3 separate regions of the Homo sapiens genome follow, and all the other regions are linked to region 3. The links come from fine-mapping of genetic effects on gene expression. A gene starts in region 3. Each other region holds a variant in brackets. All regions are shown on one strand. Distances are between the middles of the regions.

What was found. PIP is the estimated chance that this variant, and not a neighbour inherited with it, causes the effect. A credible set is the group of variants that fine-mapping cannot tell apart.
Region 1: its variant is the best candidate, but not a certain one, in a credible set for the expression of PIRAT1 in whole blood (INTERVAL, PIP 0.56).
Region 2: its variant is the best candidate, but not a certain one, in a credible set for the expression of PIRAT1 in whole blood (TOPMed, PIP 0.73).

What each region holds. Positions count from the first base shown.
Region 1 is chr2:37,776,781-37,781,021 of GRCh38, forward strand. All of the region lies in intron 2 of LOC107985869 (a long non-coding RNA gene), which reads left to right. Among named protein-coding and RNA genes, the nearest start is that of PIRAT1, 97 kb to the right of the region's middle. The variant AAGAC/A (reference allele first, on the strand shown) is at 2,319.
Region 2 is chr2:37,758,671-37,762,911 of GRCh38, forward strand. The region is part of intron 2 of LOC107985869 (a long non-coding RNA gene); the gene reads left to right. Among named protein-coding and RNA genes, the nearest start is that of CDC42EP3, 89 kb to the left of the region's middle. The variant C/A (reference allele first, on the strand shown) is at 2,300.
Region 3 is chr2:37,873,593-37,877,833 of GRCh38, forward strand. PIRAT1 (PU.1 (SPI1) induced regulator of S100A8 and S100A9 alarmin transcription 1) reads right to left here and starts at 2,271. Exons shown (of 4, transcript NR_110012.1): 1 at 2,151-2,271.

The DNA.
Region 1 (4,241 bases), 97 kb before region 3:
GAGAATGACTGGTGAGCTTTTTGGGAGGTGCCCTGGGGGTCCAGGCTGAGCAGCTGGCAGGGGCAGGAGGTGAGTGTCAGCCTCTGAAGTCAGCCTGAGGTTCCATAAAGCCACATCCTTTTGCTCTCACTTCAGACCCATCTCACCTGTCACCATAGCCCTTGCCAGGTGTGCAGGTGCTTGCTGCCCAAGGCACCTTTAGCTACCCTGTGCTCACACGAGCCTGTATAGAGACATCCTTTTGGGTTGGAATGAATCCCTCCCTCAGAGAGGCTGGGGGCATTTCTGACTATTTCAGAGCTTCTAGAATATAATCTCCCCTGCAAGCATTTGACTATGGATCCTCTGGGCAGAAGAGACTTGCTTCTCCATGCAGGACCTACTTGTCTACAAGGAAAGAAATAGCTCCTGATCTAGTGCCCAGAGTTTGTTATTTTTAACAGCAAAAATATAGAGAAGTTACTATTCAGAGCTTCTCTTCTGGCCAACACAGGCTATGGATGAGTGGAATGGAAAGGCTGCCATGTGTACATCACCACCTGCGTGGATTCAAGTCATGGTTCAGATCTGCCTCGGCCTCCAGGAAAATGGCTCTACACAGCCAGTACACGGGCAGCTAGAGACATGCTGGGTCACTCCATCAACAACTATTTACTGAGCTCCTGTCATTACCAGGCACACTTCTGGACTTTTTGTTTTGTGAATTAACCTTTAAAAAAGCCAGAGACATAGGGGCTATATTGCAGCCCTATGACTGACTGTGACCACATCCAAACCCCCCTCTCACCTCTGGCATTTATCAGACTCTGTACGGTGAATCTGGCCGTAGCATTTTCTGCAGAATTCAGAAGATGTCTGGTTTCATACAACTCCTCTCCACCCCTTCATTTCCATGAAGTTCCATCTTTAAGGTAGACTGACCGGGATGATCTGTCCGGAGGCTGCGACATCACTAGCCTTATCTTTTAATGTTGTTAATTCTAGCAGATGAGGTATGGGTATGTGGAAGCCGCTTTTCTTCTGAACCTAAGCAACAGCTGTAGGAACCATTTAGCCAGGAGGATCATCAAACCACAGATGACCCCTTTGGGACCCCTGAGAGTCAGGGGAGCACTCATCACTTCATTATGTCCTCAACACATCCTAGGCTGAGCAAAGGTTCTGAATGAAGAAATGCAGAGGTTGCTTGGACTTAGCCCGGGTTGTGGAGGAGACACTTCTTCCTTTCTCATCCTCACAAGGGGTCCTTACTCTGGCCCTACAGCAGCAGCACTAGAGGATCTGTCCAGAGCAAGGGCCTACTCTTTCTCCCTTGCTCCTGGTCTCTTCCCATAGAGCCTCCAGGCTGGAGTGGTGATGGGTGGTTCAAACTGCTCCTGTTACCGTCTCTGTCTGAGTCAGGGCTGCAGACCCTCCCCTGGGAAGCATGGCTGGAATTTCATACTTCCTTCAATCCTCATTCATTCATTCATTCATTCATGGAGTATGGATTGAGCTGCTACTGGGTACCAGTCAATCTCACTGGGTCCGCCTGGTGGTCTGCCAATCCAGATACTGAATACTTACTATGGTGAAGGTGCTATCAAGGTGAGGCCAGGCAGGCCTGTTCAAGATTTGGGACATCAAATGGCAGGGCAAATGTGAGAGAAGGCAGCCCTCGATGCAAGAAGCGATATCCGGCAAACCCCCAGGGCAGCAGTGGGGTCTGGGGAGAAACTTAACACTGAAGAGGTCCCTAGGATCTGTGGTCATTGCAACTAGGAAAGCTGGTTTGCAACCCTTCTTCTACATGCTCAGCACCACCTTAGGACCTAGCTTTTCTGGATTTGAAGGGCTGGTACCAGATTCAGAACAGACAATTTTCCTGGCAGGGGCCACATAGAGATCCATATGCTTAGAATGTTGTAGTTTATTCTTTGAGGTTAGTAGAGAGATCATAGCAACCATAACGTTTGGGCTTTGCCCTCGAGGTTTTTCTGTCTGTGGAAGTACTGTGGGTATTCTTCCCAAAAATACAATGGGGAGTTCAGGGTCAAGAGGAGCCAGGAATCTCTGAAAAATGGAGGCAAATGATCCCTGTTCTTCCTTCCTGCACAGTGAGGAACAATGCCCTCATCCTGCACCATTTCATCCTGGCTCAGGGATAGAATGTCCTCATCACAACATGCTGTTCTATCCCTGGGTTAAAGGAAGGAGAGATTAAATGAGGCCTACTGGATTTCCTAAATATTGCCTCCTCCCATTTCTTAGAGTCCCATAGACAAGGCTTTCCTCATAGAAGAGGCTTTCATTTTCTTTTAAATCACAGGGTTGTTTAT[AAGAC/A]AGATTAAGCATAAACTCAAATGCTAAATCATCTGATACTCAACAGTCTGATACCAAATATCTGAAGTAAAAAGCCTGTGACCCGATGATGGCATTCAAGTGATAAATCACTCTGATCAGAAAAGGATGCAAGAAAAGCAGCTGAAAGTCTGTCTCCCCAGCCACGTGGCTTTGATCTCTGGGAAAGTGGATATTAGTGCAGACAGCAGTTCATAGGTCTTGATTAGTCCGTTCAAACCAGTGACTATGATTTCTCTGTAGATACAAGCACAAAAAAAGTCAATAAACGTTGGGCTGAACTTTAAACAACTGTCTTTTCAGAGAAAACCCAGTTGCATACAAGGAAGATTACTGCACTAGCCTGAAGACAAATGTCTACAAATATTATACGCTCAAGTGCAGGGAGGAGTTTTGTTCAAGGCAGCACAGAAAACAAATTACTCTGGTCTTAAATAAGATCCTTTGAACGGGCAGCAGCAAATCAGTACAAATTAGGACAAATGCATTCTTGACTGATATAATTTCCTTATTCTGCCTGAAAAATGCCACCAATCAGACTATAGACAGCTATGTCCCAAAAACTGGGGCCTCCGGTTACATGGTGGTTGAGTCAATTTGGTGGAAGTTCAAACCCCTAAACCAGCTCTTTATTCCACTTCCTGGGTACTGGTCTTATATTTCCAGGCAGGCAATTGAAATTTGACCATGGTTTTATTTTGCATCTCTTGGCCAGCAAATGTAAATGCAGCACCCATAAAGCACTGAGTCCCCAGAGCCTGTGGCAGGGCCAGCAGAGACTGGATGTAATTGGGAACAAGAATGGTTGCAAGATCTGTTTTCCTGGGATGGTCCTGGCTTAGGACTATGGTTCTAGAGTCCCTTCCGGCTTGCATTTGCCACTCTCTACAGTTTCTCAGTTTGGAATGATGAATTACAGTCACTCTAGGGGAGATCATTTCCCTAGCCCCAGGCATTGTTTCAAAGAATGGATGTACATGGGGGCTTTTTGTTTTAGATCAAGGAAGAGTCTGTGCTTAGGCAGGTGGTGTTGAGTCTAGAGAGAGAGGATAGGCACCCACCCAGCCATGGGTCTTTTCTTCCCACAGGCACCTCAGACTGAGCACTGGAATGGGTGAGTCAGAGGCTGAAGGGGCCCTACTGATGAGGGGTCTTGTGAGATCTGGTGGAGAGGGGTAGGCTTCCCATTTCTGTGCTGAATGGAGAGGCAGCATCTGCTAGAGACCAGGGAGGTGCAGGGCCCCAGTGGCAGGGAAGCAGGTTCTTTCACAGGACTCCAGTTCCCTACCTCTCAGGGCTTAGCCAGAGAATGCACACTGAGCTTACCAGTAATACAAGTATTTTGGTAAAACCTGACTCAAATACTGTCATCATCTTCCGGTCCAGACTCCACTCCACTCCTGGACAGCAGCTAGTACTTTGTGTTTGGCCCTGCTTTTCTAGAACCTTCGTTTGGGGTACTTCTGTCTCCTACCAGACTGCAAGCTCCCCAGGGCAGGGAATTCATCTTTGCCTTACTCACACAACCTGGCCACACTCATTAAGTTCATTAGAGGGTGCCCAAGCAACATTGGTTGAATTAATGAATGAAACATAATGAAATACAATGCATCTAATTTTCCAGCTTGGCAGCAGCTGGCAAAACTTAAAAGCTGAAGTTATCAAGGAATGGGCTAACTCATAAAACACTTCAGCCCTCTTTACCCCTTTTTGGTCCAGGTAACACCGGTGATCACAGTAGCTCTTTGTGTGCATTGTTAATGACAAGAGTCTAAACATGCAAGTCTCTCTTTTTATCCATGATTTTTTTTTTCCTGAGATAGAATCACTTTATCATGCAATGAAGCTATATGAAGGTAAGATGCCTGAGAGAGTGTTTACCTTGCTAGAAAATATTTAGA
Region 2 (4,241 bases), 110 kb before region 3:
TGGAATCAATTACATATTCTCTAGCAGAATCAACTCTTTTTTTAAATAGCAGGTGATAAGGATCTAGGGACCATTCTAAGGGATTTCTCTTTTCCATGATCAAATTCTTTAGAAACCATGAATTCTTCTGACAGTCTGTTATTTCACAAAGGGACTTTCTAAAAATTGGCCTACGTTGGTAGCAGATTTGCACTATTGTCAAAAACTACCCCCATGTGCTGTGCTTAACTGTTTGGGTCCTAATCCAAGCTCTACCACTCCTATCTGTGACTTCGGGTAAATTACTTAACCTCCCTAGGCCTCAGAATAACAATATCTACCTACATGCACCTGAATCTCTTAGAACAATGCAGCAGACAGTGAGTGCTTAAACTAACCTTGGCCATGATGACAATGGTGGTGGTGGTGGAGATGATGTGCTAGGTGCTTGACTAGTCTCTTTAGATATAAGCGAATCCTCACAAGTATCCATTTCCCTTTTACAGATGAAAGAGCAAGTCTCAGAGGGAATAATCAGCCCAAGGCCATAAAGTTAATAGGTGGCAGGGCAGGCATTCAAGCCCTGGTCTTTCTAATCCGGCCTGGAGCTCTTTATTGCACCACCAGGTTACTGGCCCCAGACATCAGCAATATGCATTAGGAAAGTTCTTTATAATTTAGAATCATTTCACAAACATTACTTGTCATTGTTTAGCCTTTCCTTGAATCTATAGGTTTTGATTACCAGCATCACAATGAACAGATGAGAACATGCGTTCAGATAGGATGAAGCTGGCTTGAGTTTACCCACCTAACAAGTGTGGACAGGGACCTGGCTCAGCCTAGGTTACTCCGCCTGTGGAATGAATGCTTTCTATAGTCCACCATGGCTTTCAGTGTCCAATCTGAATTCCTTTCCTTGTCCATCAAGACTGCCATCTGTTCCCTCAATGCATGCTTTGGTTTTTCATTAAAACTCCGATCAGGAGTCCCTTCTCAGCTGGTCAGCTCACCAGGTGTTCTACTTGGATCCTCTGCCCTTGCTATGCTGTTTTCACCATGGTCTTGACAAGTTTTTCTTCATAACTGACCTTCAAGGAAGATCCTGTGACTGCCTAGGTCACGGGGCTGAGATTTGACCCAGCTGGATGCAGAGACCCTCCAAGCACTTCCCTACACTGCTGTGTTCTCAGAATCACTGCTCCCTTAGCCCTGATGAAGGAACCTTTAGAAGGCCTGCTTAGTGGCTCTGAGCTCTCTACAGGAGAAAAGACCATTTCTGAGATAACCAGTATTTGACTGAAGTAGCAGTGGTTCTTAACAAGAGCTCCTTAAAGTTGTCTTCAAAGTAAGCCAATAAGCAGACACAGCTGTTGGTGAGAACAGGTATAATGCATAAGTGTCTCAGTTCTGAAGAAAACAGGTGGTTTACATGACTAGCTTAGAAAAGAGTGGACTGGGTTGTATTTGAATGTTGAAATTACAAAGTCAAGAGACTATACCCTGTATCATAGAAGGGCAATACATTTTTATTGAGGATAGTTATCAAATCTTTATTGAGTACCATCTAAATGTTGTAAACTCTGCACTGGGCACCATGGATATAGTAGTGAATAAGACGGACAAAATCCCTGTCCTTGTGAAGCTACATCCTACTAGAAGAGCTAGACTAAAAATAAATGCATAATATTATATTTGATAGTAATAAATACTATTCTCCAGAAAAATAAAATGTGGTAAGGAGATAGAGATTGAGTGTGTGTCAGGGGTAGGTATCATGGTGACTGTTTTTATAGGAAATGGAAGTATCTCTGGGGAGATGATTTTAAAGGTAAGAAGGAGCTGGCAATGCAGAGATCTGGGGGAAAACATTCTGGATTGCAGGCGTAGTAAGAGGAAATCTCCTGAGCGGAAAGGAACTGGGTGTGTTCATTAAATAGCAAGAAGTCATTCTATATGTTAAGTTCCCTTAAGAAAGTAGTGTAATTTCTCTGACTCTCATTTTCCTTACCTACATAAAACTCAGATGTCAACTGTGGCCTCTTCCGCTCTCAAATTAGGGAAATATTGCACTAATGCATCTCCCCAACCATCACCCTCACTACAATCCTGTAGCCAATAAAAGTCTGGCTGGGCGAGGTGACTAGCGCCTGTAATCCTAGCACTTTGAGAAGCCCAAGCAGGCAGATCACTTGAGGTCAGGGGTTCGAGACCAGCCTGGTGAATGTGGTGAAGCCCTGTCTCTACTAAAAATACAAAAATCAGCTGGGAGTGGTGGTGCGCACCTGTAATCCCAGCTGCTCGAGAGGCTGAGGAAGGA[C/A]AATTGTTTGAACCCGGGAGGCAGGTGAAGGTTGCAGTGAGCTAAGATCGCACCACTGCACTCTAGCCTGGTGACAGGGTGAGACTCCGTCTCAAAAAAAAAAAAAAAAAAAAAAGGCCCAAACCCCTGCCTCTCAAAGATTTCCCAGTTCCCGATCCCATATATACAGTTTTGTCTCTTGAGGCTTTGACTGCAATGGGAAACCCAGACCCTTTTATAAGAACCACAGAAACCCCCTCCTAGGACTTGTGTGCATAGCAGATGAGCTGAAGATTTGGGGCTGAAGAGAGACCTGAGAGGAAAACAGCCAACCTGTACAGGAGGTACAGGGCTGACGGCTCCCATACAGCAGTGCTAGGAATTCTTTGGCTCTTTCTCAGGGCTAGCCTCTAACTTTCTGGCTCCCTCTCCTCTTCTTTTATTTCTCTCACCTTTTCCTTCCAATAACAAAACAACAACTTTTTCTCTTTTCTCCTGCCCCCATCTCTTTTGACATCACAAAATCTCAACCACCCCCAAAATATCTTTCAAAGTATTTTCTTGAACAAATACAGTGGCAACCCTCAACATAATTCTGGAGCCAGTTTTAGTAAAAGGTATTTTTCACATCTTTGCATTTCAATTGCAGGCAATTATATTGGCTTTTTTGGGTTATTGGAAGGATGACACAACTCTGTACTGGGCACCATGGATACAGTAGTGAATAAGACGGATAAAATCCCTGTCCTTGTGAAGCTTCATCCTACTAGAAGAGCTAGACTAAAAATAAATGCATAATATTATATTTGGTAGTAGTAAATACTATTCTCCAGAAAAATAAAATGTGGTAAGGAGATAGAGACAGGAGATGGACAAGCTTTAGTGGCATTACTGGCATACAGTAAATATTTGATTAACAGAGGTGAGGATAAGTGTGGTGACTGCAGTGGTAGTGGTTCTTATCAACCCACTACTTGTTTGAGGCCAGACAATTTTGCAGCTTAACTTAGAGGAGCTAAAGATATGAAGAACTAAGAAAGTTCTTGCCACAAAGAGGGAAACAGAATATTGCAGGTACACTGAAAGGCAAAATGAAACAAAACAAACACAAAATTCTGGAGACTGGAGGTAGGTCAAAGAGAATGGAGAAGAAAAGTGATAGATGCAAAGCTATGAAACAAAAATTTAAATAAGCTTTATAAGAATTCAGACCTAAGTCTGAAACCTGGTGGGTGAATGGCACTTACGATCTTTCCTGCACTGTGGAATACAAATTTGCAGAATGCAGTTGAAAGAGCACAAAATGACTTCTGGTTAAGGATCACGGTGTATAGGCATTAATTCTTACCCTCCCCTTCTTGAAAAATCTCAAACTAAAAACAGAAAAATATTTTAGTTGCCAATGAAATAAGGATACGACTGCAATCTTAAACCACAAACTATGTAGCAAACCTGCCAAATGCTGTGAAATCTGGACCAAAATGAGGAAGAACACTAAAAACTAACAACATATCCTCAGACCTTGGGCAAGAGGGACATTTCCCCAAAAGAAAGTGAGATTACCCTGAAATGCCATCCAGTGATTCTTCAAGGGAGGTAAGATCCAGGGGTACTGGGGCCATGGCAGAAGAGGACTCTTCCTTTAGGCTCAACTTGATACCACAGAACATGGCAGGCAGAAAAGCAGAGGAACCAGAGTGGTACCCGATTTTTATCCAATATTCATTCTCCTTGCTGTGGGAATGACCAAGGCAGAGAAAGTGGAGGAAAATTGCATTTTCCAAATTACCAACCTTTCCAATGACAAAAATTGCGGTGTGATATACAGTTCCAGAATAAGGAAAAGAGTAGATTTGGTGAGAGGCTATAGGAGGCAATATACTGTGTTCAAGTTTACTAACATCCCTCACTACTCCCCTTCCTCCATGGATGATTTTTCAGCAAGTATACAAGATGAATGACA
Region 3 (4,241 bases):
TGACACCTTCAATACAGTATCTGATATTCATTCAGTAGTTATCAAGGGTCACTTCTGTGCAGCCACTGTTCTGAACTCTCGGAATACAGAGGGAAAAAGACAAAGTGCCTGACCTCATCTAGCTTTCATTCTAATGTAGTAGCTAGGCAATAGACACATAAACACGTAAATATATACTAGAAAGCCAGCTAGTCAAGGGCATGCTTATCGTTGTTTTTTGGTTACCCAGAATCTGAACCTCCATCCTATGTTTGAGATTCCCTACCTCATGGAATCTGGTGGATAAGCAGAGCCCATGGTCCATTACATAGAATTTGAAAATGCCTGATAGTGGTTTTATCAGCCTCTCTTGTAGAAGGAGCCAAGGCCTGTGGCCAAGGCTCCACCAGCCAGACACACTGGCCCACAATTTGAGTTAGGAACCAATGACTCAAGGACAAAGAGACTGAGAAAGCCCTCATAGGAGATGGCAGCAGCTGCAGAAAGATGGGGATTCCAAGGGTGCTGGTGACAGCGGGTTCCAGCAGTGTTAGTATCTGGGACGGTAGCATTGGTGACATAACCAGTGGCAGCTGGGGCAGCAGAGATCCCACCAATTCGTGCAATGCGTGCACTCTTCTTGGCTATAAACCACTAAGCCTTCCCAAACATTCCTGGAGCTGTCAAAGTCTACACATAAATCCTTCTTCTACTTAAACCCGCCAGAGTTCCTTGTGCCCTCATCTAAGAGCTGAACACAAGTAGTAACAAGTGCTCAATCAAAAGGAAAGCCAGACGAAGGCATGGAGAGTGATGAGAGGCTACCTTAGGTAGGTGGCCAAACTCAGCCTCTCCATGGATATGGCTTTTAAGTCTCTCCAGAAAGCCCGAGAGCAAGGCCACCTGAAGACCTGAGGGAAAGAACTCCAGAGAGAGGACACAGTGCAAAGGCTGGGCAGTGACAAGCTGGGGGGCTGAGGAATACCAAGAAGGCCAGTGTAGCCTGAGCTGAGACAGAAGCTAAGTCAGAAGGACAAGCCAGGGCCACAGTTGGTGAGGCTGGTTAGATTGTCGTGTGGAGTTTGAGTGTCATGCTGCGTGTGAGGGAAGCCCCAGCTGGTTTTAAGCAAGGTGACACGGTCTGGTAGTTGAAAAGATCACCCCGGCTGCTGTCAGAAGAATAGTCTGTAGCAAGACAGGAGTGGAAGCAGAAAGATCAGAGACTCTTGCAGAGGTTCAGGAGCCAGGTAGTATGGGTCTGATCCCTCTAGGCCGAGGGCGTTTGAGTGGCGGTGGTGGGAAGAAGAAAGATGAGGAGTAGATTTTGAAGGTAGAGCTGAGAAGCCTTGCTGTGTGTTAGATGAAGGGTGTGAAGGAAAGAGACAGTTCGGGACCGAGCCGCTCTCTGAGATGGGGAAGATGAAGAGAAAGGCAAGCTGGTGGGTGGAGAAGTCAGGATCAAGAGTTTGGCTTTAGATCTAGTGAGTGGGAAACACCAATGAGGTGGAGTGGAGACAGAGTCTGCAGGGGGATGTAAGGACCTGGATGAGGTGGGGGCGAGCTGGGCGCTGGAACTAAGTGTGTGGGATTCCTCGGCACGGGGAGGAAATGTACAGCCATGAAGCTCAATATGCTCACTCAGACGAGAGTGTGGTTCGAGAAGGGGGCTCAGGACAGAGCGCTGGGGAACCAGGGATGAAGAGATCACAGCGAGGAAGAGAATCCAGCTAGGGAACTGCAGGGCGGGAGGAAGAACACAGACTACGGCGTCCTGGAAGCCAAGAAAAGAAAACAGGGGCCTTGGCAATGACCCTAGGCACTTCCAGAGGATGCTTGTATCAAGCAGGTAAGGGGACTGGGGCTCCCAGAGGATGGGCCACCCCGTTTCAGTGCATGGCCCGGCGCCTCTTTAGAAGAGGAAGCCCCTGGATTCCAGAACGTGCTGGCTCCACCCAAGGCAGACGGCAGTGAGGCCACACACTATTCCCAGCCCCTTTCTCTCTGAAAAGAGCCCTTTGTAACTTCTTTGAGAAGGAAACACCTCCGTCAGGGGAGGAACATTATTTGCTTCCTGTTAGAACAGACTTTTACTTAGGATCAAGCTCGGTGTCAGCCCCATCCCCACAGGGAGCAATAAGGGAAAGAGGAGGGAGGGGGCCGCAGACACTCACTTGTGGGGGCTGGTTTCGCAGGAACGGCTCCGGAGAGCTTGAAGAGGGGTAGGCTGCAGGCCCACAGCCGCAGTCTCTCTCAGCTAGAAACCCTCCTCCCTCCTCTGCCAGCCTGTCCTCCCCGGGCTCCGTTCGAAAGGCCTGGGAGATAGGGAGAAGGCTGGTCAGCCTGGGCGGTTAGTGGCTGGTTTAACACTTCCTTGCCTGCCAGCCCTTTCCCAGGAAGACTACAGCCAATCATTCATTCATTCAAAAGCTCTTTGCCAAGCACCTACTCTGTGCTAGGTCTGTGCCCAGCATGGGGACACAGTATTAGGCAAAAAAAAAAAAAACAAAAACCAGACATCCCCCATCTGCCCTGAACTTACAGTCTAGTGGGATAAATTAAACAAGGCACGCAAACACCTCTACAGCCACAAATGTGATAAGGCTCTAAGTGAATATCGCACATGACAGTGGCCCTGCTGAAGGCCAGGCAGAGGTTCCTTCTTGAGGAAGGACGTCTCTGAATCTCCAGAAGCCAATAGAATCTGTAGCAGCAGAAGAAAGGGTCAGGTTTCTAGAACTGCCCACTACGACTTTAGAAGCTGACGCATCTCTGTTATGCCGCGGCTGCGATGTTTTAAGTCCCCAAAGCCCAGAGCACATCGTGGAGCATGGAAGTGGTTCACTGAGAAGCTGAATCTAGTCCTGGGGCTGCTGGTGTGGAGGGTGTGTTCCGCTCTTGGGGCAGCAGCAACAGGTGCCGTGAGAGGCTCAGAGCTTTTGAAGCAGAAATGGCAATACTCTACATCTTCAGCAAATATTTGGGAGTCTTTTGTTAAAAGAAGAGCAGAATAAATATCTATGCCTCTTGTAAAACCCAAAGGAAAGCTCTCAGATAGGCTTCTTTAGGGCTATGACTATCTCTGCAGCTTCACTATACTGAGTTAAGTCTGTAGAGCATCTGTAACCCTAGGCATGTGTGTCCACAACCTCCACACGTACACAAGGACACTCCTACAGAGGACAGGCCGTGCGGACAGTTAGGGGAGGACAGTGGAGGCCGCTTCAGTTCACTTCGGTGCTTTGGATTCAAGTGTTTTTCTGTTTCATTTTCTGGGTAGCTGATTATTAAGCTAAACACTCCTTTGATGGTTGAAAATACATTAGTCCCTTTTCTTGCACGAATCTAATTCACCAAAGCCTATTAAAGTGCTTTTGGACCAATGAGGAAATTTAATGCTCAAGTATTTTATTCTGAATTCCAATTTTCCTTGTGTTATGATTTTACCTATAGGTGGTTGGGTTGATTGTATGGTAAAGATGAAAAAAAGCATATTTGGAAAGAACATGACAATTCTCAAGGTGTTTATACTACTTTACTGTATTTGATCCTTGCAACTGCCATGTGAATTAGGCAAGAAATATTTCAGTTTTACAAATGAGAAAACTTCTGTCCTGAGACATTAAGTGATATACTCAAAGGTCATATAATAATTTGTTTTGTTTTTATCTTGACTACCATACTCCTCTATACCACCTTCAGGACTCTGGAAGTCAGATATATGTGAGTTTTTTGTCAACTAAATTCATAGTTGTCTTAATATTCATCCCTTGCTAAAATTAAGGTGCAGAAATAAAATCTGTCTAATAGAGAAATATAAATCCATCTTTTGTCTGGATAATCAAATTTTACTATATTTTGTTTTAATCCTGAGAATGAAATTTTACAAATAGCTCAGGAGGTTTTCCCTAGAGTTCCAAATAAAAGTGTGTGGATCATATACACGTTCTGCTTAATCACATGACGGTTCCAAATTTTTAATTTCAATCCTTCATTACGATGAAAATTTTTGCGTTTTTTTTCCACCAGCTCTTTGTTTTGTTTTTCAATGGCTCAGGAAAGGAGAGGGGTGTGGGAGACTCTGTCTCTTTTGACAATCACCAGCGCCATCTACTGTCAAGAAATAAAATCGTGACTCATTGTTAACGCGTCAATGAACATTAGGGCTTAAAGAGGGAAAGACAATTTTATACCCCAGTACTTACTGATAAATATAAGTTCATGTACACATATTTTTATCTTATATTATTGTATTCTTAAGCAGC